Homo sapiens: one gene and its partner. The protein of the gene in region 1 interacts with the protein of each later gene in a biochemical or structural test. Each region holds a gene or a part of one and is shown on either strand. Other genes may lie near its edges.

Region 1 (3,745 bases):
TGTTTTATTTAACAAGTGACTCTTACCTTTGTTCTTATTGGCGGCTGTGTAAGAGTATCCAGGGGCCTGACCTGTCTTCCGCCCAAAGAGACCATGGAGATTTGGCCCAGTCTTGTGCTTGCCTCCCTTTTCAACGGTGTGGCACTGGGAACACTTCATAATAAAAATCTTCTTGCCTTTCTCAACATCACCCATATTTAATTCTAAAAACGAAAGCTTCAACTTAGTAAATTTTTCCTCAGGTAACAAATACAGTGTAAATGAATGACCACTCTAGCCACTTAATTACCAATCCATTGCTAATTTATGTCATTAAATACCAGAATGAATCTTGTTTTGCTTTAATACTCTTTATACCAAATATTCTTTAATACCAAAAACATTTTTAGGAGTACCTCCTCAAAAACGTATTTTTGTGTGTATACGTGAAGGAACGTTAAAGCCCAAGCAAAGAGGGAACCTAATTCAAACTCCAGTTTCAGAAGAGACAATCATGGTCACGAAGTCACAGATCTGAAGCTCAAGGGCGAACACATTAAGCCAAAATCACCACAACCGCAACTTTTAAAAAGACCTAACCATTTAATCTTACTACAATGTAAAGCCACCTCTCCCTGAGGATAACGCAAAGCACACAAATGTTTAAAAAGCGGTCCTGGCTGTTTCTATCTGCCCAGGTCACAGGAGTAGCTTGACACTCGAACTTGTGAATGGGAGCTCAGGGGCAGGCTGCACGGTCCCCCGGGGACATCCCAACTCCCCTACCTGTGATCTCCTGGGGCGACCACGAGGTCACCCGTCCAGGTCGGTTTCAAGGTGATTGATGAAACTCCTTCTAGGATGTCAGAACGACTGACGGAAGAAACATGTGCCCACGAAAAGAACTGGCCCCTTATTAGAAGAGCAACAGCTTTTGCCCTCTGAAGAAGAACGTGAAGCTCTAAGCTTCGGCTTTCCAGGAGGGAAGTCTTGCCTATCATTTCCATAGCCCTTCAGCAACCACTACGGAAGAGGCCGCCTCCTCCTCGGATCTGTATCCAAGCCGCCTCCAGTCCCTGACCGAGACCATACCTGTCCCTAGTTAGGGCTCCGCCGCACCTCAAGCCGTTACTCGCCCAGCTCGGTCTGACCACAGTCCAGGGTCTTCACTCCCCGCCCTCCCACCCAGCGCGGGCTCCACTCGAATGCTCCCCGCTTGGGTTTCGGTCGCTCGCAAGTGCGCGCCTCCCACAGCTCTGCCTCTAACCAGGTGCGGCCTCCGCGACCCGCTCTCACCTCTTTTTAGTCGCTGGCACAACGAACACTCCCGCTCCGAAGCCGGACGTCCCCACTCTCTAAGTCCAAGGACACGCCGGTCCGCGCTTAAGTACCGGTGTAAGTGCAACCAAACTCGCTCCGCGCTCCCGCGCCCTGACGTGCGGCCGAGCTGGCGGCTACGCAGTAACGTCGCCGCACCTCATTGGCTCCAGTCCCAATGCCTGCGCCAAGGACCTGCGCGCGCATGCTGGCGAGCATGTTAGGGTGTACGGCGTGCGTGCCCTTCTTCTCGAGGCTTTTCCCGGCCGTTACGACAGGCCTTTGGTCGTACGACAACGAGGTGGTGTCGGGAGAGGTGACGTCACTCGCGGGCCTCTGTGCGCTTGCGTGTGCTGGAGGAGCGGGGAGGGTGGGGCGGAGTCGCTTGGTTGGTGCGTTGCCCTGCTAAAGTATCAGTTCTTGGGCGTGGTGATGTAATGAGCTTTGAGCAGGGCGTTTTGCCGGTCCAGGAAAAGACGCCCTAATTTTGGCGCACCTAGAGGTCTCCTAGCTACCATCTTGTCAGCAGGCGACCTTTACCCAGACTCTGTCCTACTACCACGGCTGGCGCCAACAGCATCCTAGAGGGACAGCCTGGAACCAGGAGTTACACGAGTTGGGCACCAGCTCGTGACCTTGTTCTAGTTCCACCTATACTCTGTTACTTTCAGTCACATTCCAGCTCTCCGCTTGATGGACGCCCCAAGACTGAGGAAGGTGCTGCATTTGCGGCAGAGACAGGATTATCCCTCTGGAACTGAAAAATAAAATTAAGAGGATGCAATGATAACATTTATGTACCTTTTAAAATTTTTATGAGTACGAAGTAGGTAAATATATATATATACTTAAGAGGTACATGAGATATTTTGATACAGGCATACAATGTATAATAATCACATCAGGGTAAACGGTCTATCCATCACCTCAAGCATTTATCCTTTTTTTCTGTTACAAGCAATCCAATTATACTTTTAGTTTGTTTAATGTACAATAAATTATTGTTGAGTGTAGTCACCCTGTTGTATTACTAGACCTTATTCATTCTTCTTCAGTGGCGCCATTTAATGTCTCAGCCCCCCAAGTAGCTGGGACTACGGGAGCAAACCACCACGCCCAGCTAATTTTTGTATTTTTAGTAGAGATGGGGTTTCACTATTTGGTCAGGCTGGTCTCGAACTCCTGACCTCAGGTGATTCACCCGCATCGGCCTCCCAAAGTGCTGGGATTACAGGTGTGAGCCACCACGCCCAGGGCAAATAATATTTTATAACCCATTGTTTTAAACTGATGACAACATAACATTGATTGCATAAACAAAAATCAAAGAGAAAACTAAGAAAAACTCTGCACTTTAACTTCACTCTCCCCACTTTTAAAACTTTTTCTTGTTTCTATTTATATATTATTATACTATGTCTTGAAAAGTTGTTATAGCTATTATTTTTGATAAGTTAGGTTAATCTCTAAGTCTTTCTACTCAAGATATGAACAGTTTACACACAATTACAGTATTATAATATTGTGTGTTTTTCTGTGTACTTACTATTAGTAGTGAGTTTTGTACCTTCAGGTGGTTTCTTATTGCTTACGAATGTCCTTTTCTTTCAGACTGAGGAACTCCCTTTAGCATTTCTTGTAGGACAGGTCTGGTGTTGATGAAATCCCTCAGCTTCTGTTTGCCTGGGAAAGTCTTTATTTCTCCCTCACATCTGAAGGATATTTTCACTGGATGTACTATTCTAGGATAAAAGTTTTTTCCCTCAGCACTTTAAATATGTAATGCCACTCCCTCCCGGCCTGTAAAGTTCCACTGATAAGTTTGCTGCCAGACTTATTAGAACTCCTTTTTATGTTATTTGTTTCTTTTCTCTTGCTTGCTTTTAGGATTCTTTCTTTATCCTGGATCTTTGGGAGTTTGATTATTAAATGTTTTGGGGTGTCTTCGTTGGGTTAAATCTGCTTGGTGTTTTATAACCTTCTTGTACTTGAATATTGATATCTTTCTCTAGGTTTGGGAAGTTCTCTGTCATTATCTCGCTGAATAAACTTTCTACCCTGATCTCTCTCTCTAGCTCCTCTTTATGGCCAGTAACTCTTAGATTTGCCCTTTGAAGCCAGTTTCTAGATCTTATAGGTGTACCTCATTCATTTTTATTCTTTTTTCTTTTGTCTCTTCTGAGTGTGTATTTTCAAATAGCCCATCTTCAAGCTCACTAATTCTTCCTTCTGTTTGATCAATTCTGCCTGTAAGGGACTGCATTTTTTAGTACGTTAATTGGATTTTTCAGCTTCAGAATTTCTGCTAGATTCTTTTTAATTGTTTTAATCTCTGTTAAATTTATCTTGTAGAATTCTGAATTTCTTCTCTGTGTTATCTTGAATTTTGTTGAGCTTCCTCAACACAGCTATTTTGAATTCTCTGTTTGAAAAGTCACATATCTCTTTC
Region 2 (3,745 bases), on another chromosome or scaffold:
CTTCTTACTAGCATTGAAACTAGGGTCTGGAAAGGAGGAATCAGGGTCCAAGGTTCTGTCAGCATCCTCCACCTCAGAACAAAAGGTCTAGGGGCCTGAGGCTTGGGGGCTGGCTCCTAAGGAAGCTTGGAATGGAGATGACCACTGTCTGCTCACCCCGCGCACTCCATTTCCTGGAGAAACTTGACCTTGGACCAAGGAGTGGGATCATGGGAACATGGGAAGTGTGGTAGGAACAGGCCCAGGGTGGCATGGAAGGGCAAAGGGGGCAGCCTGCAGAGGGGACCCCTGCCCCTATCTCTGGAGTTAGGCAGGGAGGAAGGAGTCCAGGTCTCACTGGTGCCTTCTGAGCTGTGCATCCCTCGTCTTCCACCTCCACCTTTCCTCAGCACCAAGCTCCAGGCAGCTCTGGGGAGCATCTGGGGGCGTGAAGGTATAGATGAGTTCTGCCCCCACATCACCCTCTGCCCCCAAACCGCAGGGCCAGATGGAAAAATCCTTTTCCACTGGTATGGTAGTGGTAGGGGTGTCCCAGTGTTTCAAGGTCACCCTCATGCCCTTGACCCTTCTAATTTTGTCTGATATCCCCAGCGGGGGGCCAATGGGGGTCCTAGACCTTTGAAGCCCCTTTTTGGGACCTCAATTCACCATCTGAGAAGTGGGAGGAGGCCTAAGTCTTGGGCCAGGGTCTGAAGAGTTTGAGGCTGAGGGCTTGGGTTCTGGTGCCAGCCCCAGCTCAGTCTGGCCAGATTGGAGAACCCCGCTCACTTGTTTGCTCCCCAGAGGAAGCTGGGTGGGGTCCAGGTGGAGAGGGAGCAGTTCTTGAGTCTCTCTTCCCTGCAGGGGCCAGAGGCCCCTGCACCGGCAGAACAGACAGACGGTCTGGCCCCCACCCCTTCCCCCCTAATTGGCTGCCTACGTGCACACAGGCCTGCTCTGCTGGATCTGGTTGGGGTGGGGACTGGGCTTAGCCAGTCTGGCTGAGCCCAGTCTCCCACCCCCAGGGAAGACTCAGGGTTTGGCATCCATGGTGGTGGGGAGGGGCTTTAGAGGATGGGGACTTAACTGGGTCAGAGGGAGGGAGACACACATCTGGGGAAAAGAAGGGGAGTCCCACATCTAGGGAGAGAGAGGGGCACCCAACAAATAGAGTGAGGGAGGGGGCACACTACAGGTGATAAGTGGGAGGGGGCGGCCCACACTTCTGGAAAAGAGGGGCTCCGGCCAGTGATTATGATTAGTGGGTGGGAGAGCTCCACATATCAAGAGAGGGAGGATGTAATCTATATTTGGGGAAAGAGATGGCACACATATGCAGACTCCCCAGGAGTCTTCAACTCTAACCTACAAGAAGCCCCCCAACCCTCTAAGACAGGGACCACTGGGGCGTGACCCAGCGGCGAAGGCAGGAGACCGAGCCGCGCCCCTGACCCGCGCGGGCTTGGGTGGCGGGGTCCTCCCCCAACTCACTCACCTCGCGGGCTCGGCAGTGGGAGCGCGACCTGGGTCTGCCCAGCGAGCAACTGAGAACCCGCTGCGGAGGGACCTGAGTGCGGGCGCCCGCCCCCGGCCCGCCCCACAGCCTTTCTCGGGGCCGCCCCAGCGTGGGAACGTCCTGCTTCGGCAGGGCGTGGGAGCGCACAGCCTGCGTCCCTGGGGGCACCCCGGCCCACAGATTGGGGGGAGGCACTGCAGAGCGCCTCCTGCATCAGTGTCCCTACCGGGGTCCTGCCTCTGGAGACCCTCTGCAGACAGTAGTCCCAAGAACAGGGTCTCCCTGCCTCCTCCACACCTCCCCTCCTTGCTGTTTCTCCCACCTGGGATGTTCTCTTCAGGCCTTTGCAGACGCAAACCTTCCAGCCAGGCCCAATGCCTCCTACTCCAGAAGCATCTTTTAGGCCAGCAGTGGCTCACGCCTGTAATCCTAGCACTTTGGGAGGCCGAGGCGGGAGGATCACCTGAGGTCAGGAGTTTGAGACCAGCCTGCCCAGCATGGCGAAACACCTTCTCTATTAAAAATAGAAAAATTGGGCGGGCGCGGTGGCTCATGCCTGTAATCTCAGCGCTTTGGGAGGCCAAGGCAGGCAAATCACGAGGTCAGGAGTTTGAGACAGCTTAGCCAACATGGTGAAACCCCATCTTTACTAAGAATACAAAAATTAGCTGGGCGTGGTGGCACGCACCTGTAATCCCAGCTACTCAGGAGGCTGAGGCAGGAGAATCGCTTGAACCCGGGAGGCGGAGGTTGCGGTGAGTCGAGATCCGGCTACTGCACTCTAGCCTGGGCAGCAGAGCTAGACTCCATCTCAAAAAAAAAAAAAAAAAAAAAAAAAGTTAGCAGGGCGTGGTGGCGCGCACCTATAGTCCCAGCTTCACAGAGGGCTGAGGCAGGAGAATCACTTGAACCTGGGAAGCGGCTGTTGCAGTGAGCCGAGATCGGGCCACTGCACTCCAGCCTGGGCAACAGAACAAGACTCTGTCTCAGAAAAAAAGAAAAAGAAAAAGAAAAAAAAAATTCCCAGCACTTTGGGAGGCCAAGGGGGGCAGATCATGAGGTCAGGAGATGGAGACCATCCTGGCTAACACAGCGAAACCCCGTCTCTACTAAAAATGCAAACAAAATTAGCCAGGCATGGTGGCAGGCGCCTGTGGTCCCAGCTACTCAGGAGGCTGAGGCAGGAGAATGGCTTGAACCCGCAAGGCAGAGGTTGCGGTGAGCCAAGATCATGCCACTGCACTCGAGCCTAGTGACAGAGCGAGACTCCATCTCAAAAAAAAAAAAAAAAAAAATAGACAAGGCTCAGGCACATTTATTCAAGAATTACTTATAAAACTGGGCGTGGTGGCTCATGCCTGCAATCCCAGCACTCTGGGAGGCGGAGGCGAGCAGATCACCTAACGTCAAGAGTTTGAGACCACCCTGGCCAACGTGGTGAAATCCCGTCTCTACTAAAAATACAAAAATTAGCCGAGTGTGGCAGGGGACACCTATAATTCCAGCTACTCGGGAGGCTGAGGCTAGATAATCGCTTGAACCTGGGAGGCAGACGTTGCAGTGAGCCAAGATCGCACCACTGCACTCCAGCCTGGGTGGTAGAGTGAGACTCCTCAAAAAAAAAAAAAAAAAAAAAAAAACTTAAAAAAAACTTATAAAGACCTGTTTCAGCTGGCATTTATTGCATACTTGTTTACCAGGATAAATGTTGGGGGCTATAGAGCCAAAAAAAACCAGACATAGTTCCTGCCCCCACAGGGCTTACAATTCTGTTCTAGGCAGAGGAAAAGGCCTGTGCAAAGACCCAGAGGCAGGAAAACACAGCATGTTCAAAAAACAGAAGAGACAGGCCAGGTGCAGTGGCTCACGCTGTAATCCCAGCACTTTGGGAGGTCAAGGCAGGTGGATCACAAGATCAGGAGATCGAGACCAGCCTGGCTAACACGGTGAAACCCCATCTCTACCAAAAATACAAAAAATTAGCCAGGCGTGGTGGCATGCACCTGTAGTCCCAGCTACTTGGGAGGCTGAGGCAGGAGAATCGCTTGAACCCGGGAGGTGGAGGTTGCAGTGAGCCAAGATTGCACCATTGCACTCCAGCCTGGGCGACAGAACGAGACTCCGTCTCAAAAAAAAAAAAAAAAACAACTGAACAGAAGAGACAGCCAGGTGCGGTGGCTCATGCCTATAATCCCAGCACTTTGGGAGGCCGAGGCGAATGGATCACCTGAGGTCGGGAGTTTGAGACCA

The links. The genes of interacting proteins can lie anywhere in the genome.
Region 2: the proteins of CYCS (region 1) and COX4I2 form a complex in vitro, tested with the Homo sapiens proteins (4 studies listed by BioGRID).

Annotation. Positions count from the first base shown.
Region 1 is NC_000007.14:25,123,925-25,127,669, forward strand, and holds the start of CYCS (cytochrome c), read right to left. Parts: upstream 1,337-3,745; 5' UTR 1,276-1,336; intron 204-1,275; 5' UTR 196-203; coding exon 27-195; intron 1-26. UniProt on the Homo sapiens protein: Electron carrier protein. The oxidized form of the cytochrome c heme group can accept an electron from the heme group of the cytochrome c1 subunit of cytochrome reductase.
Region 2 is NC_000020.11:31,635,692-31,639,436, reverse strand, and holds the start of COX4I2 (cytochrome c oxidase subunit 4 isoform 2, mitochondrial), read right to left. Parts: upstream 1,526-3,745; 5' UTR 1,475-1,525; intron 420-1,474; coding exon 338-419; intron 329-337; exon of another isoform or gene 254-328; coding exon of another isoform or gene 157-253; intron 1-156. UniProt on the Homo sapiens protein: Component of the cytochrome c oxidase, the last enzyme in the mitochondrial electron transport chain which drives oxidative phosphorylation.